Linked DNA regions of Homo sapiens. The protein of the gene in region 3 purifies or fractionates together with the protein of the main gene of each other region. This does not show direct contact. Each region holds a gene or a part of one and is shown on either strand. Other genes may lie near its edges. The genes, in order: ERMAP, PEDS1, NADK2, POGLUT1, MPST, TIMM9 and SLC29A3.

Region 1 (4,184 bases), on a different chromosome or scaffold from region 3:
AAAAAAAAAAAAAGTTACAAAATCACAGAGCAGTAAGGGACCAAGCCAAGACTAGGACTAAGCCATCTGATTCTAGCCCTCAATCCACTGTCACTTATAGCAATGTTTATAATAGCGATGTATTGGAAAACAACCTAAATGTCCTCAATATAGAATTATTTTAAAGCTTTTACATCTTATATCCTAACTTCTAAAATTCTATGTCCATGATGGAATCCTAAAGTCATGTAAAGAAGATTTGATTGCCTTGGGAAATGCACATAATGTAGCACTTGGTGAAAATATCAGGTATCAAAACAGTATATAAAGTATTTATTTACTTATTTATTTAAGACAGGGTCTTGCTCTGTCATCCAGACTGGAGTGCAGGGGCGTGATCATGGCTCACTGCAGCCTTAACCTCCTGGGCTCAGGTAATCCTCCTACCTCAGCCTCCCAAGTAGCTGGGACCACAGGCACATACCACCACAGCCAGTTGATTTATTTTTATATTTTTTTGTAGCAACAGGGATTTGCCATGTTGCCCAGGCTGGTCTCAAACTCCTGGGCTCAAGCAATCTTCCCACCTCTACCTCAAAGTGCTGGGATTACAGGCGTGAGCCACTGTGCCCAGTCATGGTTTTTGTTTGTTTGTTTTACAAAAAGTTATGTACATGCATAGAAAGAATATTTATAGAAACATTATCTTTGGGTGGAGGAATTACAGATGATTTGACATTTTTGTCCTTGTTTTGGATCATTTCCAGATTTTCCTACAATAAGTAAGACAGAAAAAGCCCCAAACTGTGGCATATACATTGAACTTTAGGAAGTGAAATCATATTTTATATTTGTTGGGGAAAATTTCTTTGTAAAGGAGTTCCATGATAATCACTCAGTAAAGTGTGGTGGTCATTTGCTCATTTTATAACTCATGATACAGGGCTATATAGGCATGCATTCATTCATCTGTTTATCCATGTTTTACATTCTATCTGCTTCCAGAAAGGATCCCGGCAATTCACTTGCATGGTACCCTGAAGTGTGTATGATTGCCTTTCCTGTTCTAAGTGTAAAAGAGAATAATACCTACTTTTCAGAGATGTTGTCAGTACTGAAGACAATATATATGGAGAAACAACAAATGCAATAAATAAGAACTATTATTGATTTAGAGCAATATCATAATTAGAAACATATTTATGATTTAGTGTTACTTCACAGCCATTAATAGGATGTTGACTACTATAATATTGATATGTTACATGTTAGAAGAGATGGAGGAAGGGGCCATCCTGGCAAACTAGATTAGAAGAATAAATCCTGGAGGTCAGTATGGTGACCAGATGGTTCTTACATCTGTGTAAGAAAATATGAAAAAAAGGACCTGGTAGCACTTCTTACATGGAGTGACAATCTAACAGAAGGACTTCATTTGCTTTTTATTTCCAGCATCTGGTGCAAATCATTTTACATGTATTTTCTTTGATCCTTACTATAACCCTATCTATGAGGTAGGTACTATTATTAACTTCATTTCATGTGTGAGCAAGAGGAGGTTTGGAGAAGTAAACTAACCTGTCTAAGGCCACCAGTTAGGAAATGGCAGAGCCAGGACTTGAACCCAGGCTGACTCTAGAGCTCATTCTTTTTTTAAAAAAATTTTTTTTTTTTTTTGAGACAAGGTCTTGCTTTGTTACCCAGGTTGGAGTGCAGTGGTGCAATCACAGTTCACTGCAGCCTCAACCTCCCAGGCTCAAGAAATCCTCCCACCTCAACCTCCTGAGTAGCTAGGACTACAGGTGCGTGCCACCATGCCAAGCTAATTTTCTTTTATTTTTTGTAGAGATGGAGTCTCACTATGTTGCCCAGGCTAGTCTCTAACTCCTGAGCTCAAGTGATCCTCCTGCCTTGGCCTCCCGAAAGTGCAGGGTTATAGGCATGAGCTACCATGCCCAGCCTAGAGCTCACCCTCTTAACCACTTCATAGATTGTCTGAATCTTGGAATATGGGTCCATAGAGGTCTCCTTCTATTTGATTTCAGGCAGCCTTGGGTTAGCTTGGAGCTCTGGGTCACTCTGAGCATGTCTACCCAGGGTGTGCTTCAGAGTCACTAGAAAGTTGAGGGGTTTTGGGATTAGGGATAACGCCAGGGAATCCTGGGCCCTACTTCCACCTTCAACCATAATTGATAAAATAGAGAGCTTTTCTCATTTACTTAACTTCTCTTGTCCAGTTTTTGAGTAGCTAGTAACCTATAGGAAAGTGGGTGGGACAGTCACAAAAAAATGTGTCCTAATGTGATCCTAACCTCACTATGACCTAGTGCTATGTTGTCATTTGCTTAGAGGGGTATGTTGTATAAAATATGATTTAAAGAAAAACAAGAACAACCCTAAACCAGTGTGCTTTTTGCCATGAGAAAACAGAATTGGGTGTTTAAAATGAGAATGTGTTCAACGCTAGCTTCATCTTCAGTTTCCCAGTCTCCCTTTGACACCCCCTCCGTGTGTCATGACCTTTTCCATGACCTTCAGGGACTGGGCCTTCTGACTTATACAAAAGCCTCCTCTTTGGAAAGGATTTGAACCTTGGAGAGAATTTAAGAGATGAGTTGCCTTTTCCTAGAGCATTTACATTTTAAACTTTATGCTCACTTGTGGCATGAGAGATTCTGTTTCCTGCTAAAGCAATTTCAGGCAGTAGCAAATAGGTGGGGAAAGAGCTTTACAGGAGGAAATCCTTTAGGGTCTCCCTGTGATTCATGCACACGGTCATCTGGACCTGCTAGGGATAATTTTCCTCACTTGGTTAGTAATAATAACAACAACTACACACTTATGAGCAGTTGTTCTGCCAGGCATTTGTGGCCAGTGCTTGGCAGGCAGTATCTTTTTGAACCCTCACACTCATCTGTGAGGACAGTTTCCCTTCATAGATTAAGAACCCGAGGTCCAGAGATGTTATGCAACCTTCCTAGGGACACAGAGCTAGTAATAGGTAGAGCTAAGATTTGAACCCAGGTCTTTCCAGCGCCAGACCCTGAATTTGTAGGATTAGTGCCTTCAGGATGACATGGAGGGACCTCACTGCCTTGATCTGTTATTTATCAAGAGTCAAACTGGAAAAGGCTGTCAGGGAAACCTCCAGGCTGCATCTTGGGCAAAGATTGGCTTGAAACAGGCATTTCCCAAGCCTGGCCTTGGACACCAACTGTAAAAAAAAGGCCATTACTGGTGTTTCCTTGGTTAGTTCTGGGTATAAGTTCTGGATCCTCACTCATCTCATCTGCACTGACATCCTCACTCACGGCATTTAGAGACTTAACACGCCAGCCTCTGTGTGAGCATTTACCTCTTTCAACCCTCACCATAATCCCACAAGGAGGCACAGTTCTTTTACCCATTTTGAAGATGAAGAAACACAGTCTCAGAGAAGTTCGGTCACAGTATCACAAGGAGGTAAGTAGCAGAGCTGGGATTGGAGCCCCGGCCTTTGTGATCCCAGAGCACCAGCAATACCGTCTCGGCCTCGGCTCCTGGGTTATACCCTCTGTCACGCCAAGCCCATCAGCCCGCTTGTGCTGTCTCCCTCTGTCTGTCCTAGTTCGGATGGAGATGGCGAGTTCTGCTGGCTCCTGGCTCTCTGGCTGCCTCATCCCTCTCGTCTTCCTCCGGCTGTCTGTGCATGTGTCAGGTAGGAGTTTCTGATCCTCTTTCCCTGCCTGGTACATGTGATATTGGCGTCCCCAGAATAAGGAAGCTTGGCTGGAAACATTATGTCTTTTGGGGTTCTGTTCCCCCGGCCCTGGCAATCCTTTCCAGAGTCCTTCCTGGGCTCTGTCCGTCCCCGGGATATCCTCTTCCTCATCCCTTCCCAAGCTTTCTCCTGCCGTCCCTCCCAGTTGGCCTTGTCTCTTTTTTTGTCCAGGCCACGCAGGGGATGCCGGCAAGTTCCACGTGGCCCTACTAGGGGGCACAGCCGAGCTGCTCTGCCCTCTCTCCCTCTGGCCCGGGACGGTACCCAAGGAGGTGAGGTGGCTGCGGTCCCCATTCCCGCAGCGCTCCCAGGCTGTTCACATATTCCGGGATGGGAAGGACCAGGATGAAGATCTGATGCCGGAATATAAGGGGAGGACGGTGCTAGTGAGAGATGCCCAAGAGGGAAGTGTCACTCTGCAGATCCTTGACGTGCGCCTTGAGGA
Region 2 (4,184 bases), on a different chromosome or scaffold from region 3:
GCAGGTGCAGGGGGTCCAGAGGGTCCCACCTTTTACTTAGAGGGACCTCCTCAACTGCCTTGGGGTGGGGAGGAAGGGCGGAGGTTGTCTCCAAGCCCCCTTACAGCACAGGTAGGGAGACTGAGGCCCAGAGGCAGACAGTGCCAACCCAAAGCCCTTCCAGGGTCATTTCGGCTCATCTCCCCAAAGGCTGGATGGGGTCTGTGTCTGGCAGTGGGCCAGGTGGGAATGTTCAAGCATCCCGGGTGGAGGAAACTTAGGATCAAAGGCGGGAGGTGAGCCCAGGGTGAATGTGTTTAGGGGGCTGTGGAGAGCAGCTGACCACCTTAGGCTGACTGCTGGGGCTGTGTCCCCCTCAACTCCAGGCTTTCATCCGACCCTTCCGGGAGCACCACATTGACCCGACAGCTATCACACGGCACGACTTCATCGAGACCAACGGGGACAACTGCCTGGTGACACTGCTGCCGCTGCTAAACATGGCCTACAAGTTCCGCACCCACAGCCCTGGTGAGACACCCAGCTAGTGGTGGGCTGGGAGGGGGCCTTGGGGGCAGAGGCCGACCCCCAGGAGCCTTCTGGGGCTTATGTGTTTGGCTCCTTATGGTATTTTAAAAGAGTTTTCATTCATTGTCTTCATGTAAAATCAGGAAACCTGACATGAAGATGGAGGTTTCCAGCTTCTCTTGCACAATCTGCTCTGGCCCCCCTGGGTCCATGTTCCCACCTGGCCTCACTGGGTGGGAGCTGAGCTGCAGCCACTGCCTTTGACAGGACGCGTCTTTCCAGTTTACCACCGTCCCCACTATTCCTTGCTTCCCTGCACCCAACCCACCTTGTTCATTTGTGTTACCTGCCTGGCAGGGCTTCTGGGGTTTTGCTACCGTGGCCTAGTGGAAAATGTCTAGGCTGTGAAAACAGGGCCTGCCTATTTTTAGAGGGACTGGTCCCAAAGTAAGTGATTTCACCACTCTGAGCCTCAGTTGCCTTATCTGTCAGGTGGAGGTAGGTTGGGGCCCGGTCCTGTTCCAGCACCTTAACACCCATTTGTTCTTCAGGCAGCCTCCGGTGGGTAGAGGTGGTGAGGACGTGTAGTGTAGTGGGTGCTATGGCACCCTGCCCATCCCCTTCCCTGGGGGTGCACCCAGCCCCTGCTTCTGTGAGTGGTGGCTGCTGACAGCTCCCAGCTTCTCCAGGGATGGAGGGGAGGTCCCACCTGTCTCCTTGGGATAAGGCTGGAGCCAGTGACTGAAACGCCTCCGACGCTAGTCCCTTTGCCTCTGAGTGGGTCTAATTCTAAAGAGCCGTTAACACCTCAGAGCTCCTTGCAGGAACAGACTGAGACAGGACGCCACCCACCCCATCTTTGCTCTGCTCTTCCCCTGCCGTGTCTTGCTTCCCTCCCTCCCTTCGAGGTTTTTTCCTGAAGAGGCTCCCTTGATAAATCACATGCACAAGAACCTGTTTCAGGCTCCGCTTCTAGGGAACCTGGGTGAAGGCATCATTCCCATTTTCCTGATGGGGAAATTAAGCTTCTTAGAGGCAGAGTCACCGATCCAGCCCATACTGCCAAGAAATGTCGGCAGAGATCGGAACCCAGCTCCAGCTGACTCCGGTCTACATTCCCAGCCATTGCCATGCTTATGCCATTATCCTATTACACCATTACGCCTGCTTCCTGAGCAGGAGGAAAGCCTGAAGCCCAGGGCAGCACCTGAGCTTGCCTGCGGCCCTGCAGGGGGTGGAAGAGAATCCTGGGTGCTTGCCCAGCTCAGGAGCCGCCCAGGAGCAGGTGGTGAGGGCCATTTGGGGTGGGTTCCCCGTCCCGAGTGACAGCTGTGCCGGCCCCCCCTCTCCCCAACCTGCAGAAGCCCTGGAGCAGCTATACCCCTGGGAGTGCTTCGTCTTCTGCCTGATCATCTTCGGCACCTTCACCAACCAGATCCACAAGTGGTCGCACACGTACTTTGGGCTGCCACGCTGGGTCACCCTCCTGCAGGACTGGCATGTCATCCTGCCACGTAAACACCATCGCATCCACCACGTCTCACCCCACGAGACCTACTTCTGCATCACCACAGGTGCGGCCACCAGTGGCGTGGAATGGGCTTTCCCCACCCCAGCCACTGCACCATCTTCGAGGTCAGGAGGGCAGAGATCACAGCAGGAGGTCACACAGTCCTTGCCCTCTGGGAACAGTCTCTCAGGTCATGCATTTATTGAGCACCTACTGTGTGCCAGGCACTATTCTAGGTGCTGAGGACACAGTAAATGAGACTGACAAAGCCCTCTCCCTCGACTTCATGGCGTTGTGATTCCAGCCACCCATCATCCCGTATTTATTGAGCACCTACCACATGCCATGGTGCTTTGGGCGTAGGCTCCTGCAGCAAACAAAATAGCATGAATCAGCTGGGCGCAGTGGCTCATGCCTGGAATCCCAGCACTTTGGGAGGCCAAGGCGGGTGGATCACTTGAGGTCAGGAGTTGGAGACCAGCCTGGCCAACATGGTGAAACCCCATCTCTACTAAAAATACGAAAAAAAATTAATTGGGCTTGGTGGCAGGCACCTGTAATCCCAGCTACTCGGGAGGCTGAGGCAAGAGAATTGCTTGAACCTGGGAGGTGGAGGTTGCAGTAAGCTGAAATCGCACCACTGCACTCCAGCCTAGGTGACAGAGACTGTCTCAAAAAAAAAAAAAAAAAAAAAAAAACCAGAAAACACGGATCCTTGCCCTTGTGGCACTCACCATCTAGTGAGGGAGCTGGAACGAATGAATAAAATGTGTAGCGTGGCTAATGGTGCTAACTGCTATGGAGGAAAATAAAGCAGGGGTGGGAGAAGGAAGTGGGGGCTTTGCCTCTTAAATCGGGTGGTCAGGGAAGGTGACACTTGAACAAAGACCCCGAGGAGCTGAGGGACAAAGCCGTGCAGACCTCTGTGGGAGGCACTCTAGGCAGCAGGAACAGTAGGTGCGAAGGCCCTGAGGCTGGCCTTTGCTTGCTTGGTGTGTTTCCGGAATGGCAAAGAGGCTCCTGACTGGAGTTGAGGCAGAGCAATGGAAGAGGGAGAAGCGGGCAGAGCAGTGGAAGAGGGAGGAGAGAAGGGGGCAGAGCAACTGAAGAGGGAGGAGAGAAGTGTGGGAGGGCCCTGAAGATAGATGAGCACAGATTAGAGCAAAGGTAACAGGAAGCAGCAGGCCAGAGGCAGGAACATGCCCAGTGCAGTGGAGGAAGGGAAAGGAGGCCCACGTGCCATGCTCAGTTAGCAGCCAGTGCGAAAGAGGTGAGGTGAACTGGGAGTTTCTCTGGAGCCAGCTGGGCTGCTTTCAAGGTTAAGTGTATCAGGTGCTGTCAAGTCTAACTCAGGCCTAACTCTCAGCTTCTCCACATGTGCCTTTAGGCAACTCACAAACCTCCCTGGGGACCGCTTTTCTCCTTACAAAATAGGGCTGCAGCCGCCTCCTTCATATATCACCTTCTTAGGGCCATAGTGGGAATGGCAAATGCGGTGTTTGGCATATAGTAGGTACTTGATAAATTACAGCTACTATTTTTTTTTAGGTCTTTCTGGAAACAGAACTGAGAACCACAAAAAAACATTCTTTTTCATGTCCTCAATTTGTGCTCCTTGGAAGGCAGGTGGAGGGATTAGAATTCAGGCTATTTAGGAGATGGGTTAACTACTTAGGCAGGGCTGAGTTCCAATCCTGGTTTGGCCACCTGCTAATTGGGAAACTCTTCTCTAAGCCTCAGTGTGCTCATGTGGAAAATGGGACTGATATTAGTATCTACCTCATGGTGAGCTGGAAGGCTGTAAGATTGTGAGCAATATTTATTCAGCACCTACTCTGCGCCTGGCTGTATTCTAAGCACTGAGGATCAGCAGTGAAAGAACATGGTGTTTTGCATTTTGGGGATAACGTTCCAGTTGGGGATTGGGGGGTGAACAAACACAGAACAGGAAAATAGAGAATTAACGAAGATGGTTACAGGTTATCATAAAGGCTATAAAGAAATGAAAGAGGGTGGCCTGTCATGGTGGTTCACGCGTGTAATCCCAGCACTTTAGGAAGCCAAGGCGAGAGGATTGCTTGAGCCCAGGAGTTCAAGACCAGCCTATATAAGACAAGACCCCATCTGCATTAAAAAAATTGTAAATAGAGCCAGGCTCAGTGGTTCA
Region 3 (4,184 bases):
AGCTGTCCTAAAATGGGATTCTGTAATAGGAGTGATAAGATGATAAGTATTATTTGTTATATTGCTGGGGTAGAAAATACTAAGTTATGTGAATCATGTGAATTGGATGGATATAAAAGAAAGTGGCCAAGTGCTTGAGTCTCACCATGGCTGCTGTGTCTATAGTGTCATGGTAACTTGGTTTTTTGTCAAAGCATTCTCTTTTGTTGTCGTGGTGGTGGTTTTTTGATGTAAAACAGGTCTGTTTTAGGCTATTTGTTAAAATGCAAATGGAAGATGAAGGATAGAGTGCCAGTATAATTTTATACCCTGAAGGCTGATGATTTTCTAACTTTGTAGAAATGTAAACAATTACAGGAAATATTTTTTAGTTGATAAGGCATGCACAGAATAGGTTTACAACCTTCAAGCTAGTCAAAGTTTTGACTTTTATTTACCGTTTCATATTGGTTACATTGCTTTATTTTAAAATCTTGTCTTTTTCCCCATTGATTGACCAGTGACTTATTTTGTGATATCAGATTTCTGGTCAAACATTTTACCTCTACTGTCTCATGACCTTTCAAAGGCCAGTAAAACTATTATTACAATTTACTTGCATCATTAAGAGATGTAGCTGTTGGCAAATGTGCAATTGCTATTAACAGGGTCCTTGACACAAATTAGAACTCTAGATGAAACAAAACTGACTTGGAAAGGATTTTGACACCAGAAACATACCTCATTGGTCAAAAAAAGGTTTTATTTAAAGCTCTTTTTCACCTGTCACCAGGGATGGGGAACTGAATAAGGAAAAAAAATTTTAATGTAGAACAAATAAGAAGTCAGCAGTTTCTGCCCTCCTCTCCATCATTCCAGGTCTCACAACTCGGCAACCCTTTTACTGGTTCCTATTTTTAGTTTTGTTTTTTAAAATTCATAATGGGATAGAATAATTTCATTTAACAGTCTGCCGTGTTATTGGATTAAACTAGATGACTTGGAAGGTGTAGCACCTTGGATTTCCCTTTTGTTTTCTGAAGATTTTGTGGCTTAGGTTGTAGCACTTGGGCAGATAATACTTTTGCCACAGGGTATGCAATAAGCGTACCATGGTATACTTTTGTCAGGTGGTATACTTTTGCTACATTGTATGCAATAAGTATATTACATACAATATGATTGTTAATCAAATTAAAGAGCATGATTTGGAGTACTGCCAGAGCTTTCTAACTGAATCCTTGCTCCTCTCAAATCTTCTAGACACAGTTACCAGAGTGTCTATCTAAAGTGAACATCTGGCCCTTTCTCTCTTTTGCTTGGAACTCCACAGAAGCTCCCTGTACCCTTTAGTCACCAAGAGTACTTGTTAAAATGCAGACACCTGAACCTTAGCCCCGCAAGACTCTGACTCAGTTTGTGGAGAATTCCCAGACTTTGGTTTTATGAAGCACACACCTGAAATTAATGACTCCGGCTGAATTCCAGGGATGTGTTTTATCCCTGGTTGGCATGTGGTCCCCAGTTAAACTGAGAAACACAGTTGTGGGCTCAAGTTCATGATCTTTAGAATGGCAGATAAGTCCCTTCATGAACTGGCTATCTCTTGAGCTTCACTTCTGATCACTTCTTGTCTTAAATTTCATATTCTAGCAATTTCAAACTGTGTTAATTTCCATTAGATGTTGTACTGATTTAGTTTAATTTATGGATCAGTAGCACATAAAATGATTCAAAATATAAAAGATACAAAATATTATACAAAGAAGTCTTTCTGTTACTTGTCATTTGTCATTCAGTTTTGTCCCTGGAAGTAACTGTTATCAATTTCTTGTGTTTTCTTCCAGAAGCAACCTATACCTACAAATCAGCACAGTGAAATATTCTTTTTCTTTGCCTCATCTCTTTTTATTCAATGATAATATACTATTTAAGCTATTATGTGCCTTTTTTTTTAGCCTAACAGCATTTGTGGAGATTGTCATAAAGAACATTCCCATTCTTTTTAAAAATAGTATGTATGTTACTTTATTTTGTGTCCTAATTTATCTTCTGCTATTAAACACATTCTGAAATGAATAACATTTGTGTTTATATGCATGTAAATCAAGCTCTAAGACAAATACCTAAAGTTGAAATTGTTGAGTCAAAAGCCTTGTGCATATAAAGTTTTAACAGATTTGGCCAAATTGCTTCCCTTAGAGATTATACAGATTTTTACTTTCACCAGCCCTGTATAAGGGGACTTATTTTTCCATACATAGTTCATTAAATTGTTGGGTCTTTGCCAACCTGGTGGGTGAAAGATGGTATTTCAGGGTGGTTGAATTTGCATCTCTCAGTGTCTATGTGTCTACTTTTGTAGCCTCCTTTGATTTGAATGCTCTTCTTCCTCTATCCAATTCCTGTTTTTTTTTTTTTTTTTTTTGAGGTTAAGCTCAGACATTACTCTCTCAGGATGCCATCCTTGGTAACCTTGCTGTGCCTCTGCCTTTCTCTGGCTACCAAGATTGTGTTAGGCATTCTTCACTTCATAATACTTATCTGTGATTATTTTCTTTTCTAAACTGTAAACTCTTTGAGGGCAAGAATTGCATCTCCTTTATCGTCCTCTCCACCCCCATACTTCCACTAAAAAAAGTAGTAAAATGTTTCTGATGTTCTGTTAAGATCATTTTTAGGTCTTTTCTCCTTGAGCCTGGGGACCAGCTTCCTTCTAGTCCAGGGCCTTATTACCAGCTGTCTGTCTTTCCAGATGTTAGCTGCTGAAAGCTTAAGTCAGAGTTTAAGCCTTAAGCTTTGGATTCTTTGATAGAGGTTTCGGGTTAAATGTCTTTGAAAAACATGAGCCCAAGCAAAAGATGATTTTTATTTGACTATGGGATTCTTTTTGGTGGGAGGGAGCAGAAAATGTTTTAAATTCTGTGGAACACAACTTGGAAAACAGAGGTTTAAGGTATACTCCCTTTCTATAAATACTTGCAGTTAAATAGGAAACTCACAAAGATGTAGAAGAATTAAATATCACAGTAGCTGAAGTGTCACCATTAGAGAATCATTGACCAACATGCTTCACAGCCCTGATGTTCAGCCTTCACTGTATATAAGCATTATCTAGGGGGAGGTTTTAAAAACTACAAATATGTGACCAGCCATGAGATTGCAAATAACAAAATTTTTCACTGTTATCATTTTACTATATTTTTAATTATATAAATTAACTTCTAATAGTTGTGTTTGATGCACATTAATCTCTTCTCAACTAGTAAAGTGTAAATTGACTTTATTTGTCACTATCAGTGAACTTTGTAATGTACAACGGAAATATATAATTTCAAAATATCAGCAAGTGTGCCAGTTATTTCACGCTTTAGGAAAATTTATTTTTTATATATATATATATATATATTTTCTTCATAATAAACCACTAGATATGGATTATGCAGGAAAATAGACCAATCTTTGTAAAACATTTGCATTGAAGGAGGGTTCATCCAATTGGCTCTCCTCTTCCTAAATGAAAGGTGGTAGAATTAGGTCCTGATAAAGAACAGAATAGTTGTTGAGTTATGTAACTTAGTCATCACAATTGAGGCTTAGTGGCCTAATGAGTATTCACAGTTCTCAAGCAGGAGTAAGATATATGGCTAATGTAGGAATGTTAGTAGTATGTGGCTGCATGGATATAACAGAGTAGACAAATCCTGCTTTAACAGCAGAAGATCAGAGTTTTGATCCTGAAAGCACAATCTGATGTCTTTGTAATCTTGAGCAAGTAACCTAACCTCTCTGAATCAGTCTCTTTGGCTTTGAAATATTTATAGTAATACCTGCTTTTCCTTTCTCACATAATTTTTAGAAAGGTGAAATAATTTACAATTTACATAATTTAACTTAAAGCTGCATAATCTAATTCCAGTTTAGCCACAATAATGATCATTATGTAAATGTTACATATATTTAAATTATGTACCTGAAATAGCATTGATTTGGTTAACTCCAAAGTAGATTCCTTTACTAAGATAGATCACTTAAGTGAACTAAAAATATGTTGATTTTTAACTCTGCTTGCGTAGTGTTTTTTTAACCAAAATTTTAAAGAAGTTATCATTTCAAAGTAATAGAGAAAATAATTACAAAAATTATGATCTGCATTAAAAGTACTTGCTACAGTGTCACTATTGGCAATATCCAGGAAGTCTGTT
Region 4 (4,184 bases), on a different chromosome or scaffold from region 3:
AATCAGTGACTTCTAGTTTCCAAGGGAGAGTTTTACTCTGTCAACTTTATAGTTAATTGTGCAGCTTCTATTGAATAGCTGTTATGTTTAAGGTGCTTGATGAATCACATTTTTTACATATTTGAGAGACAGCAAACAGCATATTGCACATGTATTTCCAGTGGAAGAAATAGTAGAGTTAGAGGTTTATCAGTGGCCAGATTTTTAACAGAAGTAACCATAAAAAGGGAACAAATGGAGGCCAGGTGTAGTGGCTCACACCTGTAATCCCAGCACTTTGGGAGGCCGAGGCAGGTGGATCAAAAAAAAAAAAAAAAGGGGGGAACATATGGCTTTAAACTTTTTTCTTTTTTTTGAGGCAGAGTCTCACTCTGTTGCCCAGGCTGGAGTGCAGTGGCGCGATCTCAGCTCACTGCAACCTCCACCTCCCAGGTTCAAGTGATTCTCCACCTCAGCCTCCTGAGTATCTGGGACTATAGGCACCTGCCACCATGCCCGGCTATTATTTTGTGTGTATTTTTTAGTAGAGACAGGGTTTCACCATGTTGACCAGGCTGATTTCAAACTCCTGACCTCAGGTGATCTACCCGTCTCGGCCTCCCAAAGTGCTGGGATTACAGGTGTGAGCCACCGTGCCCAACCTCAAACTTCTTTCAAAAGATATGTGATAACACCCCTTCTCATTTTGCTCATCCATACTTCTGACCCCGATCAGTGAATAACCAAGAATTTATTGACCAATCAATGTGAGCCCAACAGTGCCATAGTATGAGATAACACTAGCCAATATTTATCAAGTATGTACAATGTGCCAGCTACTGTTCTAAGAATTTTACGTGTATCAACTCATTTAATATTCAAAATAAACCTTTTAGTTAGATCATATTATTGATATTATTGTTTCCCCCATTACAGTGATAAGGAAGCTGAGGCATAGAACCATTAAGTAACTTGCCTAGAGCTGTAAAGAGGTGGAGTCAGAATCCAAACCCATGTGATCCACATCAGGAGCCCACACTCTTAACCATTGCATGTATTTCTTGGCTCTTACTCTCAAAAAAACCCATTGGGAAATAACCAAAAACTGGTAAGACAGTGTAAACTCTTAAATGTAATAGTTAAACAATGAGAGAGCTCTGTGATTATTCAGAATTGGGCATATTGTTTCCTTAAATTGGAAATCTTAACAGTATATATCCTCTAGAAAAACAGAATTTGGGGGAACTGAAAAAGCTGACCTTTAATGTGATTCTGAATTCTGGAATTCAGTGAGCCCATGACTTTTAATCCATAGTCACTTTTGCCTTTTAATGTCTACAGGCTAGACTTTGGAAAATAGGGAAAATATATCTTTGACAATGTGACACTAAACCAAGGCTGTCCAGATCCTGTGGCATGATTGCAGTTGCCTCTTTTCACTGTTCCAAGACTGATTTAGGACGACCTGTCTGTTTTTGTTGAAGACATCAGAGTACCATGATATCATGTATCCTGCTTGGACATTTTGGGAAGGGGGACCTGCTGTTTGGCCAATTTATCCTACAGGTCTTGGACGGTGGGACCTCTTCAGAGAAGATCTGGTAAGGTAGGTCCTTTAAAGAGGTTTTATTTTTTCTCTTTCTGGGTTTTCTTGAAATAAGCCATAGAATATAACCAATTATTTACTTTTTTTTTTTTTGAGACGGAGTTTCGCCCTTTTTGCCCAGGCTAGAGTGCAATGGCGTGATCTCAGCTCACCGCAACCTCCGCCTCCCAGGTTCAAGTGATTCTCTTGCCTCAGCCTCCCGAGTAGCTGGGATTACAGGCATGTGCCACCACACCCGGCTAATTTCGTATTTTTAGTAGAGACGGGGTGTCTCCATGTTGGTCAGGCTGGTCTTGAACTCCTGACCTCAGGTGATCTGCCCACCTCAGCCTCCCAAAGTGCTGGGATTACAGGCGTGAGCCACCGCGCCCAGCCTATTTATTTTTAAGTGACTAATTTTTAAGTTAAAAATTAAAGACAGAAAACTGTAGTGTAAACAATTTTGTACGTGTCTAATAATATTTACATATCCATAGAAAGGGGCAGAATAGTCTATCCTAAACTATCAGCAATGCCTCTTTGCAAGGGATTATCAGAGACTTTTGTTTTGTATTTTAAATTTTTCTTTCTTTTTTTTTTTTTTTGCGACACAGTCATGTTCTGTCTCCCAGGCTGGAGTGCAGTGGTGCTATCGCGGCTCACTGCAACCTCTGCCTCCCAGGTTCAAGCAATTCTCTTGCCTCAGCCTCCCGAGTAGCTGGGATTACAGGCATGTGCCACCACACCTGGCTAATTTTTTGTATTTTTAGTAGAGATGTGGTTTTGCCATGTTGCCCAGGCTGGTCTGGAACTCCTGGCCTCAAGTGATCCACCCACCTCGGCCTCCCAAAGTGCTGGGATTACAGGCACGAGCCCCTGTGCTCAGTCAGTATTTTCAATTTTTCTATACTTAAGATTCTTTAAATAAGAGTGCATTCTTTCATAGTAAGAAAAAATGAATGACCTCGTCATAGGGGGGATAGAAAATTATTTGGAAGAATATAAACATACTTGGCAATTGAGAGCTAAGTAGTTTAGGCAGGGCTGAGGGAGCATAAATGTCCCATAAGCATCTCAAGTACAAGCTTATTCCAGATCCTCTCTGATTCATGACTGAGACATGCCTTGGCCTGTTGACTCCATCCTGCTATCATTTCAGAATTTAGATTGTGTAGCTCATCCAAGCTGTAGGTATTTCTTACCTAGCTACATTTTACATCATGATTCAAACAACTTTGGTGCTTAATTAGAGAACTTCCGGAAACACAGTCATTATAGGCCTTCTCTCAGGTATAAGGAAAGCAAACAATTCAACCTTGTTTCCATAAATACCTATCACCTCTCCCAAGTGTGGCTGAAGATTCAAAGAGGATTAAGGTAATATTCCCTTCCTGAAGAAACGTACAGGGCTGCAGTCCTCAGTGGTGGGTAGAGCCCTTTGTTAAAAAACAAACTTCTCTAGTGGGTATAATTTGGAAATTTTAAAAAATAATAACTTAGTCTCATATTTTACAGAACTGGAACTAGAAATTGTCTTTGTCCAGCCCTTTATTTCAGGGATAAGGGAATGAAGGTACAGAAAGGTTTAGTGATCTGGTCAAGGTCAGAAGCAAATCTAGGCCTAAAGACCAGGTTTCCAAGTGCATTATCCAACCTACTTTACTGGTTAATATTCCTTGTGTTTTCCTGACATTGAGACTGTCATTTCTTGTTTATTTTTGGGTTTTGAACATAATTTTGAGAGGGGGGGAAAAAGGTGTGGTTTTTTTGTTTCTTGGTTGTTTTTTAAAATTTTTTGTAGAGACAGGTCTTGCTATGTTTCCCAGCCTGATCTCAAACTCCTGGGCTCAAGTGATCCTCCCACCTTGGCCTCCAAAGTGCTGGGATTACAGGCATGAGCCACCACACTAAGCTGGAAAAAAGGTTTTAAACTTTTTTTTCCCTAAGTTATTCTTGGCCTTGGCCTTAATTTTCTAATCCTTTCCCCCCCTCCTCAGGTACTTGCAAATACCCTTTTCACATTCTTCTTTTTGTAGCTCTTTTCCCACCTGCCATGCAGCTGCTTTGTTTTCAAAATCTTTAAAAACATTTTTACTGATTATGAAACCTATATATGCTCATAAAATTTTACAAATATGTATAACTCAGGCAACTTTCCCCCTAACTTATTGGTGTATCTAAGTAATCTTTCCATGTCTTTGTTTCATGTCAGTACATATGAAAGAGTCACTTTATTTATTTGTTTGTTTGTTTATTTTTAAAAGGCAGGATCTCACTATGTTGCCCAGGCTGGACTCAAACTCCTGGGGTCAAGGTGTTATCCAGTTACTCCACCGTGTAGTTATTAATACCATTTTCCCCCAGGTAAACTAGTAAGCAATTTTTAGGCAGATAGAATGTTTTAAAGTCTAATCTTATATGAATACTTTTTTCTTTTGATACCTTCCCATTTTATTCAATTGAATTTATTCATGGTTATAGAAATACAATTTTGTTTTTTAGAACCCTCTGTTTAGAATCTCTAATGATGTTCATTTGTTACCTTGAAAATTTAATAATCTGCTTGTTTATCCATCTGCACTGATGTCTGCCTGCCACTGTTCATTCTATTTTTCTGATA
Region 5 (4,184 bases), on a different chromosome or scaffold from region 3:
TGGCACAGGCTTCTGTTAAGCTCTGGCCCCATCTTCTTCTGGAAATGAGATGTACTATTTACCTGCTAGAAGGGCAGGTGGTGGGAGAGTAGCTTTGGGTGGGACCACAGACATGTCACAGCAAAATTCACCTTAAATAGCCCAGATGCCAGAAGGGAGAACGCCCAGGATTATGGGGTGAGGGACAGCTTGCTAGGGGCTAGCTCAGTCACAGAAGTGGGGAGCTCTGGGGCCCCAGCACTGCTTGGAAGGCAGAGACAGGATCTCCAAGACCCTCAGGCTCCCCAGAGTGACCTTTGCTGGGCATGACAGAACCCCTGGCTCCTTAGGAAAACCGAGGCAGCCCCAGAGCTACAAGATTTAGCACTTGGTTATTTTATTTCCTCAAAAATAAAACAGAAAGGAGGCGGGGCCCCAGCTCAGCACCAGGTGGGCAGCTCGGAGTTGTGGCCTCCCTCCTCCAGGGCTCGCCTCCGCCTTTCCTCCCGCCCCTACTGGCAGCCAACAAGTCAACGGAATTCCTGGCCTTTGAGATGTCACCCCAAATGCCACCTGAGTTGAGTGAAGAAACACTCTCTTGGTGAAAGCAGAAGCGGAGCTACCAGGCCAGGCATTGCTGGTGGCCGGCATCACCTGAGCTCGCCTGTGTCCTGCCCAGCTTCAGTGGGTCTTCCCCCGGCCCTCTGAGATGACATCCTCGGGCCGGGCGCGCATGTACCACTCCACCCAGGAGCCATCGTAGATGGGCACGTCTGGCTTGCCGCAGAGGTAGGCCCCTAGTGCCACGTGGCAGGCTGTGACGCCAGAGCCACACGTGGCCACCAGTGGCTTAGACAGGTCCACTTTCTTCTCCTGGAACAGATGGCGGATCTCCTCAGGGCTCTTCTCCAGCCCCTCCTGGCTCAGGAAGTCTGTGAAGGGGATGTTCACGGTACCTGGGATGTGGCCAGGTTCAATGCCTACAGCAGGGGAGCAGGGAGGAGGGGACAAATAGAAGGATGCTATGAATGGTACCTCGTATTTGTGGTGCTCGAGATATTGAGAGCATCCCATGCAAGCATGGTGCTAAATCCTTTATATCCACCATCTCATTTAATTCTCACAACCATAAAACCTGAGCACTGTTTAGAGGAGCCCCCATTTTATACACGGTGATGCTGAGGTTAAGTACCACCTGAGGCTAACACATCTAGCAAATTGCTGACTGAACTTTGAACCTAAGAACTGGGCCCCAAGGTTTCCTGACTATGCACCCTAGGGACAGCAAAGCAATAAACAAGACCCCTGCCTAGCTAGAACGTGCAGTACCTGCAGGCAAGGAGCTTTAATCTGGCAGGGCAGACAGGCAACTGAATAATTACAAGCATAATGGGTGTTCCAAAAGTGCCCTACTGGGTGGCCTGGGGCATGTAAAAAAAAAATAACGCCAGTAACAGCAATAGCTGATATTATTATTACTGAGACAGGGTCTCATTCTGTTGCCCAGGCTGAAGTGCAGTGGCATGATCAAGGCTCACTGCAGCCTCAACCTCCTGGGCTCAAGCAATCCTCCTGCCTCAGCTTCCCCCCGAGGGGCTGGGACTACTACAGGCACATGCCACCATGCTCAGCTAATTTCCTTTTTTTGTTCTTTTTTTTTTTTTTGAGATGGAGTTTTGCTCTTGTTGCCCAGGCTGGAGTGCAGTGGCATGATCTTGGCTTACTGCAACCTCCACCTCCTGGGTTCAAGTGATTCTCCTGCCTCAGCCTCCTGAGTAGCTGGGATTACAGGCACCCATCACACCTGGCTAATTTTTGTATTTTTAGTAGAGACGGGGTTTCACCATATTGGCCAGGGTGGTCTCGAACTCCTGACCTCAGATGATCCACCTGCCTTGGCCTCCCAAAGTGCTGGGATTACAGGTGTGAACCACCACGCCTGGCCTAATTTGGTTTTTATAGACATGGGGTCTCAGTATGTGGCTCAGGATGGTCTTGAATTCCTGGCCTCAAGTAATCCTTCTGCCTCAGCTTCCCAAAGTGCTGGGAATATAGGAGTAAGCCACCTTGCCTGGCCAATAGCTGATGTTATTGAATGCTTACTTTCTGCCAGGCACTGTTTGGAGACGGTCAGCTATACTTTCTCCTTGAATCCACCCCAAAATTCTCTGGGAAAGAAATTATTATCCTCTCTTTTGTAAAGATGAAGAGAATGAAGTACAAAGACTAGCTTGTGCAAGCTAGCAGAGGGCAGGGAGGAGTAAACCCAGGCAAGTCTATGCTTCCCACCTTCACGCCACACTGGCTGGGGGCTCAGTGGGTGGAGGAAGTTTCTCTGAGAATGCCCCGAAGGATGAGTAGGATTCAGTCACATAAAGGGGTCTGGGTGGATGGAGGCCTAGAGCATCCCAGGCAGAGGGAATCTGAAAGGCGAGGGAACCACCTGTTGCCCGGAGGGGTTAAAGGTCATTGTCACGAAAGCCCAGACAGTGAGAAGCCAGAGGCCCAAAGGGGAAGCTGAAGGGGATGGGAACGCCTTAGCAGGCCTGGAGTAAGACTTGGGGGCTTTGACCTGACTGCAGGGGGAACTCAGGCTTCTGCGTTTACTTTTTTACTGTTACTTTTAATTTTTTTTATTGAGAAGGGGCTTGCCATCATGTCCAGGATGGTCTTGAACTCCTGGGCTCAAGGGATCCTCCCACCTCAGCCTTCCAAAGTGTGAGGATTATAGGTAGGAGTTACCTTGCCCAACCTAGATTTCCATTTTTAAACGATCATTTTGATTGTAGCAGAAAGAATGGGATGGGAAAGGCCCACACCTCTGCAGACTCCCAGGGTGTTTTTTGTTTTCACTGCCCCACCTTGAGGCAGGGGTTACTAACATTCCCATTTTCATGCAGGACTGGGATTTGCAACAAAATAAACCTTCACAACTAACGCTTGGGCTGGGCACGGTGGCTCACGCCTGTAATCCCAGCACTTTGGGAGGCCGAGGGGGGCAGATTACCTGAGGTTGGGAGTTCGAGACCAGCCTGACCAACATGGAGAAACCCCGTCTCTACTAATAATACAAACATTAGCCGGGCGTGGTGGCACATGCCTGTAATCCCAGCTACTCGGGAGGCTAAGGCAGGAGAATCACTTGAACCCGGGAGGCGGAGGTTGTGGTGAGCCGAGATTGCGCCACTGTACTCCAGCTGGGAAACAAGAGCAAAACTCCGTCTCAAAACAATAACAACAACAACAACAGAAACAAACACAAACAAAAAACCCCCCAAAAACGAATGATTCAAATCTGAGCCATTCAGACTCTTGTCCAGCTTCTGCCTTGGTTTCCCTCCGCAGTGGAGTGACACCCCCACAGGAGCTGCTGACCCATGTATCGGTATCTATTCTCAGACCCTGGCATAGAGACAGCACTCCCGAGTCTGTGGAGAGGCTGGAATGGGTCATGCATCCCACCTAACAGACACAGTTACCGGGCTTGGTCAGATATCACATAGAGACCAGCCCAGAGCAAGGAGGAGGAACAAACTCTCAACCCAGGGTGGTGACTGTAAAGGGAGGGCCATCCCTACACCTTGAATCCCACCAAGCAAAGCATGTTTCCCCTGCCTGCTGGACTGGTGTGGCACATCACAGGAGCACTTGGCCAGGCCTCAGGCTGTGGAGTGGGAATGATGACGACAGTGACATTCATCACTGATCCAGCTGCAGTGAGCTTAGTTTGTTTTGACAACAAGCCTGCTAGGCGTGTATCACCTCCCATTCTATAGATGAGCTAGTGCGACTGAATAAGTGTCAGGCACAAGTGTGCAGCACACTTGTGCATGAAAACCCGGAGCTGAGTGCTTTACACACTTGCTCTCCTTGCCCCTATCATGTCTTTATGCTCTGTGTTACTGCTCCCATTCTACATAGGCAGAAGCTGCAGTTCAGAGACATTAGATGACCCGTCGTGTGTCACAAAGCCCATGTAAATGTGGCAGGGATCTGAACCCCAGTCTGGCACCACCAGCTAGCTCCCCTGTGTTGCTCATTCCCCTGGGGCTGAGATGGAGAACCCAACAGGATTAAGGTGGTGCTCTCATTAGGCTGAACCACATGAAACTGACACCTGTGTAGGTTCAAAAATGGTTGGATATCAGCTGTTTCCTATGGTTCCGGTAACACCAACATTGCTTTGCAGGATTCCATGCAACAGG
Region 6 (3,500 bases), on a different chromosome or scaffold from region 3:
TTTTTTTTTTTTTTTTTTTTTTTCTGAGACGGAATCTCACTCTGTCACCCAGGCCGGAGTGCAGTGGTGCAATCTCGGCTCACTGCAAGCTCCACCTCCCGGGTTCACGCCATTCTTCTGCCTCAGCCTCCCAAGTAGCTAGGACTCCAGGCGCCCACCACCACGCCCAGCTAATTTTTTGTATTTTTAGTAAAGACGGGGTTTCACTGTGTTAGCCAGGATGGTCTCGATCTCCTGACCTCGTAATCTGCCCGCCTCAGCCTCCCAAAGTGCTGGGATTACAGGCGTGAGCCACCACGCCCAGCCTATACAAATACAAATCTTTTATATGAAATGCTCAACCTTTTTAGAACTAGCCAGGATATAGTAAATAAATAATGTTATACACATTCTTATATCTAGATTAACTGAACCTAAGTCCTACATTTAGGATATGTGAAAATCTCAGGAATTCAGAAAGGCTTTTTTATTTACTTGTCTTCCCTTCCCTGTTGCCGCCACGTTAGATTATAATTAGAAGTCTCTGATTAGTCTCTGTGATTGCCCTTTTTGAACTAGAGAATGTGTAGTAGAATGTATAATTCCTGTAACTTTCTTTTAAAACTCTGAATATCCTTCATGAGGGTTGTCAATTTCTAAGCAAATGGTGTTTGTTAACTGGTGTTTGTTAACTATTAATAGAACCTTTGTATTTACATTGTAAAAGGATCATTAGTAGTAAGGGTCAGAGTTAAATTAGCAACTAATTTTAAGTGTATTTGGAGTGGCTCAGATATATGAATCTACTTTTTCAACAATAGATTTTATTAAATCTAAATATAGGCCAAGTATTTCTGATGAAAATTTAGCATTCAAATTGAGATGTGGTGTAAGTGTAAAATGCTCACCAAAATCAAAGACTTACTACCAGAAAAGGAACGTAAAATGTCTTATTAATACTTTTTATGTGATTGTATGTTGAAATGTTAAAATCTTTGATATTTTTGATGTATTCGACTGAGTATAATAGTAAAAAATTTAAAATAAGCAATTTGGTGACTAGTGGAATAGTTAAGTAATTTTAGGAAAACAGCAAAAATCTCTTGATTTCCTTTATTTTTCTTTTTATTATCATTATTATTATTATTATTTGAGATGGAGTCTCACTTTGTCACCCAGGCTGGAGTGCAGTGGTGTGATCTTGGCTCACTGTAACCTCAACGTCCTGAGTTCAAGCGATTCTCCTGCCTCAGCTTCCCAAGTAGCTGGGACCACAGGCACATGACACCACGTCTGGCCAATTTTTGTATTTTTTGTAGAGATAGGGTTTCACTATGTTGGCCAGGCTGGTTTTGAACTCCTGACCTCAAGTGATCCACATGTCTTGGCCTCCCAAAGTGCTGGGATTACAGGCATGAGCCACCACACCCAGCTTTTTTTAATTATTTTTTTAAGCCCAAACTTCACCATCTTGGTTTCCTTTATAACCCTCCTAGGAATGGGGCTTTAAACAAGCAGCTTAGCAAGGTAGCAGAGCAAACTATCTTAAAACTGGAGATTTTGATAGACAGGGCCTTTGAGTCCCAAACTAGCATTAGAAAATCTAATTCTCTGGCCGGGCACGGCGGCTAACGCCTGTAATCCCAGCACTTTGGGAAGCCGAGGCAGGCGGATCATGAGGTTAAGAGATCGAGACCATCCTTGCCAACATGGTGAAACCCCATCTCTACTAAAAATACAAAAATTAGCTGGGCATGGTGGTGTGTGCCTGTAGTCCTAGCTACTCAGGAGGCTGAGGCAGGAGAATTGCTTGAACCCGGAGGCAGAGGTTGCAGTGAGCCAAGATGGCGCCACTGCGCTCCAGCCTGGTGACAGAGTGAGACTCCGTCTCAAAAAAAAAAAGAAAATCTAATTCTCAACTGTAAGGTTCTATGGTCATTAATGATCTGAGAAATTGGGGGTGGTGGCATACAATTACATACACAGATTTATAAAATACGAGCAGTGATTCCCTAACTCTTCAGTTAGACTAAAAACATTTGTTTATAGATTGACAAACTTGTTTTGAATTTTTAAATTAGGTGACTAATAAAGGTACCAGAAGAATATGGCTGCACAAATACCAGAATCTGATCAGATAAAACAGGTAAGGTATTCTAATTAAGGGGAAAAGATTTTGCAAAAAAATGTAAGGTGCTACTAATGCCACCATGTCAGGCTGGGTGCAGTGGCTCACATCTGTAATCCCAGCACGTTGGGAGGCCCAGGTGGGTGGATCACATGAAGTCAGGAGTTCAAGACCAGCCTGGCCAACATGGTGAAACTCCGTCTCCTAAAAATACAAAAATTAGCTGGGCGTGCTGGCGCACACCTCTAGTCCCAGCTACGTGGGAGGCTGAGGCACAGGAATTGCTTGACCCAGGAAGCAGAGGCTGCAGTGAGCCGAGATCGTGGCATTGCACTCCAGCCTGGGTGACAGAGCAAGACTCCATCTCAAAAAAAAAAACCATGTCAGTGGTTTCACAAAACAATTGTTTCTATTTCATTTCCAAAATGGATATTAAATGTTATAAAGTGTACGTATTTTTCTTGTTCTTTTTTTTTTTGGACACAGTCTCTCTTTGTCGGCCAGGCTGGAGTGCAGTGGCACGATCTTGGTTCACTGCAACCTCCATCTCCCGGGCCCAAGCAATTCTCCTGCCTCAGCCTCCTGAGTAGCTGGGATTACAGGCATGCGCCACCACGCCTGGCTAATTTTTGTATTTTTATTAGAGACAGGGTTTCACCATGTTGGCCAGGCTGGTCTCGAACTCCTGACCTCAGGTAATCCGCCCACCTCGGCCTCCCAAAGTGCTGGGATTACAGGCATGAGCTACCGCACCCGGCCAAGCATATGTATTTTTAATCTGACTGATAATCAAGGAAAAATTAAATATTCAACTAGAAAATAAAACTATTCTGTAGATCATACTGTACCCATTTAAGTTAGCATAATAACTATGATTTCAAGTGTTATAGTATATTTTGTCTAAATATAAAATACCAGTAATTTAAGTTTCAAAGCATCTTTGTTTTAAAAACCAAATACTAAAGAACATTCTGGTTTGTTTGTAGTTTAAGGAATTTCTGGGGACCTACAATAAACTTACAGAGACCTGCTTTTTGGACTGTGTTAAAGACTTCACAACAAGAGAAGTAAAACCTGAAGAGGTATGAAAAGTGTTACTCACTAAAATTCTACAAGCCTTCATAAACACTCTAAGTAGGATCCCCTTAAGCATTTCACTTGTTCCTACTTATTACAGGAATTTAGACTACCTTTTATGTTCCATTGCTTGGAAGAACTGAAGCAGCCACTGAACCACGGCATTGAGTTTAACAGTGCCAAATTTAATGACAGTTACATTGTACCAAGTCAGACCATTTTAGAGAAGATGCCTGCAGCTGCTGAGTTACTGTTTCACAACAAAGATTCTTACTAATTAGCTTTCAGCCAAGATGGCCTACCTAGAGAAACTTGG
Region 7 (4,848 bases), on a different chromosome or scaffold from region 3:
GTGAAAGAAATAAGGAGCAGGATGGTGTGTAGAATATGCTACTATGTGTGTAAAAAAAGTGGGGAGAGAAAATATACATACACATATGTATTTGTATATGCACAGAATATCTCTGGAAGGCTACATAAGAAGTTTCTAACAGTGGCTGTCTCTAAGGAGGGAAACTGGGATGGTGGGGGGCGGGGAGGGGGACTTCCCTGCATTCTTATTTGTGTCTCTTGAATTTTGAACTATGTGACTAGTTTATTACCGGTTCAAAAACAAAATTAAAAGTGTAAATTTAAAAAAATTCAAATTAAGTAATAATTGTTTAAAAAACTGGTAGTGTCCAGGGCTGCCTCCAGAAGCTGGTGTGTAGCCTCTGACAGTCCATTCCCATTTCATTTGTGAGGAAAGAGAGGTCCAAAGAACTGAAGGCCATAGGCCACGTAAATGGCCAAGCCTGGGTTTGCAGCTCCTGCCTGGGTCCCACCTCTGCTCATCACACCCTACAAGGAGCCAGCCACTTTCAATCTATGGTAGCGCCTAAGATAAATGGAAGAGCCTAGGCTGCCAGCAACTATTGCCTACATGGCCTTGGGCAAGTTACCACATTTCTGTGCCTCAATTTCCCCAAATGTAAACCCAGAGAAGCTGTTTTTATGATAGTTATGCAACTGCAACTGGCTGGCAATGCCTGGCCTATAAGCAGCTGTTGAACAAATGTCAGCATCTCCCTGGCATCCTGGGCCTGTCGCATGGCTGGCTGGCTGGCTGCTGAATTTGGCTGTAAGGTAGCATGCCTGCTTCTTTGCTCTACATAGCACCTAGGATGTGGCAGCAGCTTGATAAATGAGAAATGTCTCCAAAATGCTGAGGATGGGACACTTCAGAGTCCCTTCTGCAGTAGCCTCTTCCCCACCCAATAAACTAATAAATAAATGCATCTTGGTTTCTATAGGAGGCTAAGCCTAACTCAAAGCATCGTACCAAGAAGACTGGGGCCTTTATTCCCTGGTGGGATGGGAACACCTCCTCACATGGGTGCAGAACCTTATCCACTATTTCAGGAGAACCTCAGAGCATCCCTTGGAATTAGGCAGGGCAGAAAACATTGCCCCCTTTTTTCAGATGGAAAAACTGAGGTCTGGAAGGCACTTGCTATGTCCCACAAATAGAAAGAACTCCCAATAGCTAAACTTAAGTCCAGTGATCACAAATGCCAAGGTCTGTGCCTAACAGAGGTCACACTTGAGGCTGACAACAGCCTAATATATTAGGTACTACTCTAAGACCCATTTCACAGAGGGGTCTGAGGCTCAGAAAGGTTGAGTAACTTGCCCAGGGTCACATAACTAGTAGATGACAAGAGTGAAGTTACACAGCCAAGCAGACTGGGGCCCATGCTGGACTCCTCAGCACACCGGGGAGGACTGGCTGGGAATGGGAATCTGTGTCTGCTGGTTCCAAGTACAGGCATCCTTCCTGCAAGCCTTGAAGCCAGTGAGTCGGGAGGGGCCCAGGCACACTGCAGGCACCCTTGTCAATGTTTGCTGAATGAACGGACTCTGCACGACCAGGACATTCTCCCCTGCTGGGGTAGCATGTACCCTGGAGCCAGCAGGTGGGGGGCCACTGGATGCCCAAGTGCAATGCATCCAGCCAGCAAGTCTATTTTAAACTCCCCTGGTTAGCAGAGCCCCTCCCCAGCCTGGATTCGCATGGAGGCCAGCATTAACAAGCTCACTGTCTGGAAGCTCACTGTGTGGAAAATCGCTTTTTCCACATGCACCCACTCATAGAGGAAAAGCCATGTGAAGGCACAGCAAGAAGGAGGCTGTCTGCAAGCCAGGAAGAGAGCCCTCATCAGAAACCAAATCAACCAGCACCTTGATCTTGCCCTTCCCAGCCTCCAGATCCATGAGAAACAAATTTTGTTTAAGCCACCCAGTCTATGCTATTTTGTCTGGCACAAAATGGTACAAATGTAACAAGCTCACTTGTTACATTTTAAAAATTAGTGTTTAAAATGTAAAAAATAATCATGACCCACCCACATAGAACAAGAGAGAACCGGCAAGTGGTTCTTTCCAGAGGCTCCAGCTACCTGTGGGGGCGGCTAGAAGGTCCACCAGCCCTGTCACTCAGGACCACACCTGGCTAGGGCCCCCTTCTCAGTTCCTAGCGTCTATTTGTCAAGGCTTGACTGAGCTTCTGAAGAAGGAGCCAGGAATTTTCTCTAACCAGGGTCACAGGCCAGGGCACTGGAGTGAGCAAAGTCTTATTAGTCTTTATAAAAGCTAGCTGCTGGCTTCTGGATTAAAAAATAAAGAGAAAGGCAGGCAAGGAAGTGCCCAACCTTCCCCAAAACAAGCTGGCTGTGGCCTGGAACGTGCTCCTGGGTCACCTGCGGGAGCCCGGCCATGCACAGACAGACAGCCCCACACAAGGAGGCAGGCACTGCTGGGGCCGCGGCAAAACCTCATCTGGGCTGGGAAGCCTGGGTGCTGGTTCCAAGGAGGTTCCTGACTCTGGCTAGGTGGCTCGCCCCTCTGTGCCTCGATCTCCTGGGCTGTGAACCGGGGTGGGGAGCTGGTAGGGCTAACCTGTGGGAAGGCACTGGGAAGCGCAGGGCACCGCCTACTGGCCGCGGCAGAACCGGCTTTGCGGTGTAAACAGCCCCAGCCTCAGGCCCCGCAGCTGGGACCGAGAGAATCAGCCACCGTCTGGATACTTCGGGCCGACGGGTCCATACCAGGCCCCCACCATACAGGCGGTGAGGTCCAGTCTCAGGGAGGAGGAGGGGAGAGGATTTGGGGAAGAGAAGATAGAGACCCAGAAAGAGGGGTGGCAGAGAGCAAGGAGAGAGAGGAGGGACGGTGGGGAAGGGACCACGGATGGGGTAGGGTCCTGCGGCTCCCCTGGCAGCCCGCAGCCGCCCCCAGGGCCCGGGAGGGAGGTCGCTGAGCGCGAGTCTGGGGGCGGCCGGGACCGTAGCCGGAAGAGCCCGAGCCGGCCCGCACTTACTGTCGCCGCTGCGCCACGCCGCCGCTGCCTCCGGCGCACGGCCAGGACCACTGGGCTTGGCAGGCGGCAGGCGGGCTCCTCCCCCGGCCCCGCCCCGCCCCTCGCGGCAGCACGCCGCCGCTTCCCCGTTTGCAAACACGCTTTTTTCCTTTGTCTTCTGCCGGCGCGCCGGGGCTCCCCCTTCTGGCGCTGAGCTGGGGCCTGCGTGCGCCCATTTTATAGGAGAAAAAGTGAGTCACCCAGTCTTAAACGCACTGCCCATGCTTGCGATGGGTGCGCTGCGCATCAGGCCTTTTGGTTGCTGCTCCTTCTTTACCTTGGAGCCAGACCCCACTGTCTCAGACCTCCCCTTTAGCTACTATAACCTGCACCCCAGGACTCAAAGGAGCCCTCATCTTGTCCCCAGGCCGCTGCAGAGACCCCTCTCCAAAGGCCGCTTCTACCCTTACCGGCTGCCGCTGCTCTGGAGGTGAAGCGGGACCCACACCCGGACTGAACTGGGCCTCCCAGGCCAGGCAGCTATTTTCAGTAGACCCAGAACATGGCAGTCAGCAATTCCAGCCCTCACACTTGACCTCAGCCATAGCGTGTAACACACAGCTGCCGCGTGTTCTTTAAGAAAGCAGGGGCCGGGCGCGGTGGCTCACGCCTGTAATCCCAGCACTTTGGGAGGCCGAAGCAGGCGGATCACCTGAGGTCGGGAGTTTGAGACCAGCCTGGCCAACATGGCGAAACCTCGTCTCTACTGAAAATACAAAAGTAGCCGGGCATGGTGGTGCGTGCCAGTGATCCCAGCTATGTGGGAGGCTGAGGCAGGAGAATCGCTTGAACCCGGGAGGCGGAGATTTCAGTGAACCGAGATGGTGCCACTGCACTCCAGCCTGGAGCCTGGGCGACAGAGCAAGACTCCATCTCAAAAAAAAAAAAAAAAAAAAAAAGGCGGAAACCTTCCTGACTCCCGGTCCTGGCCCAGTTGGCCTATTCAGAGCGGGGATCTGGATGCTTCACAGGGCCTGAAGATCTGTGACCATGGATAGTAAATTCTTGCAGTTGCCATCCCAGGGCTCAGGGGTGCCACAGAACCCATTGAGGCTGTCAGTGTGTGGACAGGTTCTCAGAACATCCCCACTCCCTGCCCCAGCCTCTCATTTTATAACCACCATTCCCCAAACACTGGCCTGATCATAAAAGTCTCGAGTACACATCCAGATTCTGGGGACCTCTCCCCAGGAGGGTTGCTGCCACTCCCCAATCCCTGAGGGTGGTGCTGTATCTGCTTTGTTTGCTCTTCCCTCATCGTGGGCACATAATTTGTGTTCAATAAATACCTGGATTAATACAACCCATCACTCAGGGGGTGCAGAATGGGGATCCAGAATGGATCTATTTAACAAGCTCCACCAGCAGGCGAGTTTGGAGACTAGCACCCTAAATTGTCAGAAAGCCCCCCGGCCCAGGAGAGGAAGGGGCTTAGCTCCAGGCTTACAAGCTGAGGGATAATGGTAAAATTACTAAACCTCTCTGAAACCCAGGGTCGGCTTAGGACTGTCGGGAGAATTAAGTCAGGTGATCCATGCCAGGCACTCAATGCAAATTTCCATCACTTCCAAGGAAGACACTCCCCACCCCCAAAATGTGATAGTGTATATGTTAGTTTAGTCATCAGGCCTTATTTTTAGCCTCTTTACGTTGGAAAAAAATCCTCTAATATACAGAGCATTTTCATGAACAGTCTCCCATTTGATTCCACCCCCCCACCCCAGTACCCAGTGAAATGGGACTGTTGTCCCCATTTTACAGATGAGGAAAGCCAGGCTCAAAGAGGTCAAGTGGCTTCCCAGG

The links.
Region 1: the proteins of NADK2 (region 3) and ERMAP fractionate together in Homo sapiens (co-fractionation; one large-scale study listed by BioGRID). This does not show direct contact.
Region 2: the proteins of NADK2 (region 3) and PEDS1 fractionate together in Homo sapiens (co-fractionation; one large-scale study listed by BioGRID). This does not show direct contact.
Region 4: the proteins of NADK2 (region 3) and POGLUT1 fractionate together in Homo sapiens (co-fractionation; one large-scale study listed by BioGRID). This does not show direct contact.
Region 5: the proteins of NADK2 (region 3) and MPST fractionate together in Homo sapiens (co-fractionation; one large-scale study listed by BioGRID). This does not show direct contact.
Region 6: the proteins of NADK2 (region 3) and TIMM9 fractionate together in Homo sapiens (co-fractionation; one large-scale study listed by BioGRID). This does not show direct contact.
Region 7: the proteins of NADK2 (region 3) and SLC29A3 fractionate together in Homo sapiens (co-fractionation; one large-scale study listed by BioGRID). This does not show direct contact.

The regions. Positions count from the first base shown.
Region 1 is NC_000001.11:42,826,858-42,831,041, forward strand, and holds part of ERMAP (erythroid membrane-associated protein precursor), read left to right. Parts: exon of another isoform or gene 1-3,393; coding exon of another isoform or gene 3,394-3,591; coding exon 3,592-3,676; intron 3,677-3,910; coding exon 3,911-4,184. UniProt on the Homo sapiens protein: Possible role as a cell-adhesion or receptor molecule of erythroid cells.
Region 2 is NC_000020.11:50,125,872-50,130,055, reverse strand, and holds part of PEDS1 (plasmanylethanolamine desaturase 1), read left to right. Parts: intron 1-365; coding exon 366-510; intron 511-1,868; coding exon 1,869-2,081; intron 2,082-4,184. Other genes in the region: PEDS1-UBE2V1 (TMEM189-UBE2V1 fusion protein), read left to right, coding at 366-510, 1,869-2,081. UniProt on the Homo sapiens protein: Plasmanylethanolamine desaturase involved in plasmalogen biogenesis in the endoplasmic reticulum membrane.
Region 3 is NC_000005.10:36,235,091-36,239,274, reverse strand, and holds part of NADK2 (NAD kinase 2, mitochondrial), read left to right. Parts: intron 1-4,184. UniProt on the Homo sapiens protein: Mitochondrial NAD(+) kinase that phosphorylates NAD(+) to yield NADP(+). Can use both ATP or inorganic polyphosphate as the phosphoryl donor.
Region 4 is NC_000003.12:119,478,588-119,482,771, forward strand, and holds part of POGLUT1 (protein O-glucosyltransferase 1 precursor), read left to right. Parts: intron 1-589; exon of another isoform or gene 590-1,087; intron 1,088-1,320; exon of another isoform or gene 1,321-1,463; coding exon 1,464-1,585; intron 1,586-4,184. UniProt on the Homo sapiens protein: Dual specificity glycosyltransferase that catalyzes the transfer of glucose and xylose from UDP-glucose and UDP-xylose, respectively, to a serine residue found in the consensus sequence of C-X-S-X-P-C.
Region 5 is NC_000022.11:37,025,991-37,030,174, reverse strand, and holds the end of MPST (3-mercaptopyruvate sulfurtransferase), read right to left. Parts: intron 3,177-4,184; coding exon of another isoform or gene 3,118-3,176; exon of another isoform or gene 3,076-3,117; intron 960-3,075; coding exon 661-959; 3' UTR 360-660; downstream 1-359. UniProt on the Homo sapiens protein: Transfer of a sulfur ion to cyanide or to other thiol compounds. Also has weak rhodanese activity. Detoxifies cyanide and is required for thiosulfate biosynthesis. Acts as an antioxidant.
Region 6 is NC_000014.9:58,410,532-58,414,031, reverse strand, and holds part of TIMM9 (mitochondrial import inner membrane translocase subunit Tim9), read left to right. Parts: intron 1-2,060; 5' UTR 2,061-2,086; coding exon 2,087-2,125; intron 2,126-3,093; coding exon 3,094-3,189; intron 3,190-3,500. UniProt on the Homo sapiens protein: Mitochondrial intermembrane chaperone that participates in the import and insertion of multi-pass transmembrane proteins into the mitochondrial inner membrane.
Region 7 is NC_000010.11:71,317,469-71,322,316, reverse strand, and holds the start of SLC29A3 (equilibrative nucleoside transporter 3), read right to left. Parts: upstream 3,059-4,848; 5' UTR 3,008-3,058; coding exon 3,007-3,007; exon of another isoform or gene 2,586-3,006; intron 1-2,585. UniProt on the Homo sapiens protein: Uniporter that mediates the facilitative transport of nucleoside across lysosomal and mitochondrial membranes. Functions as a non-electrogenic Na(+)-independent transporter.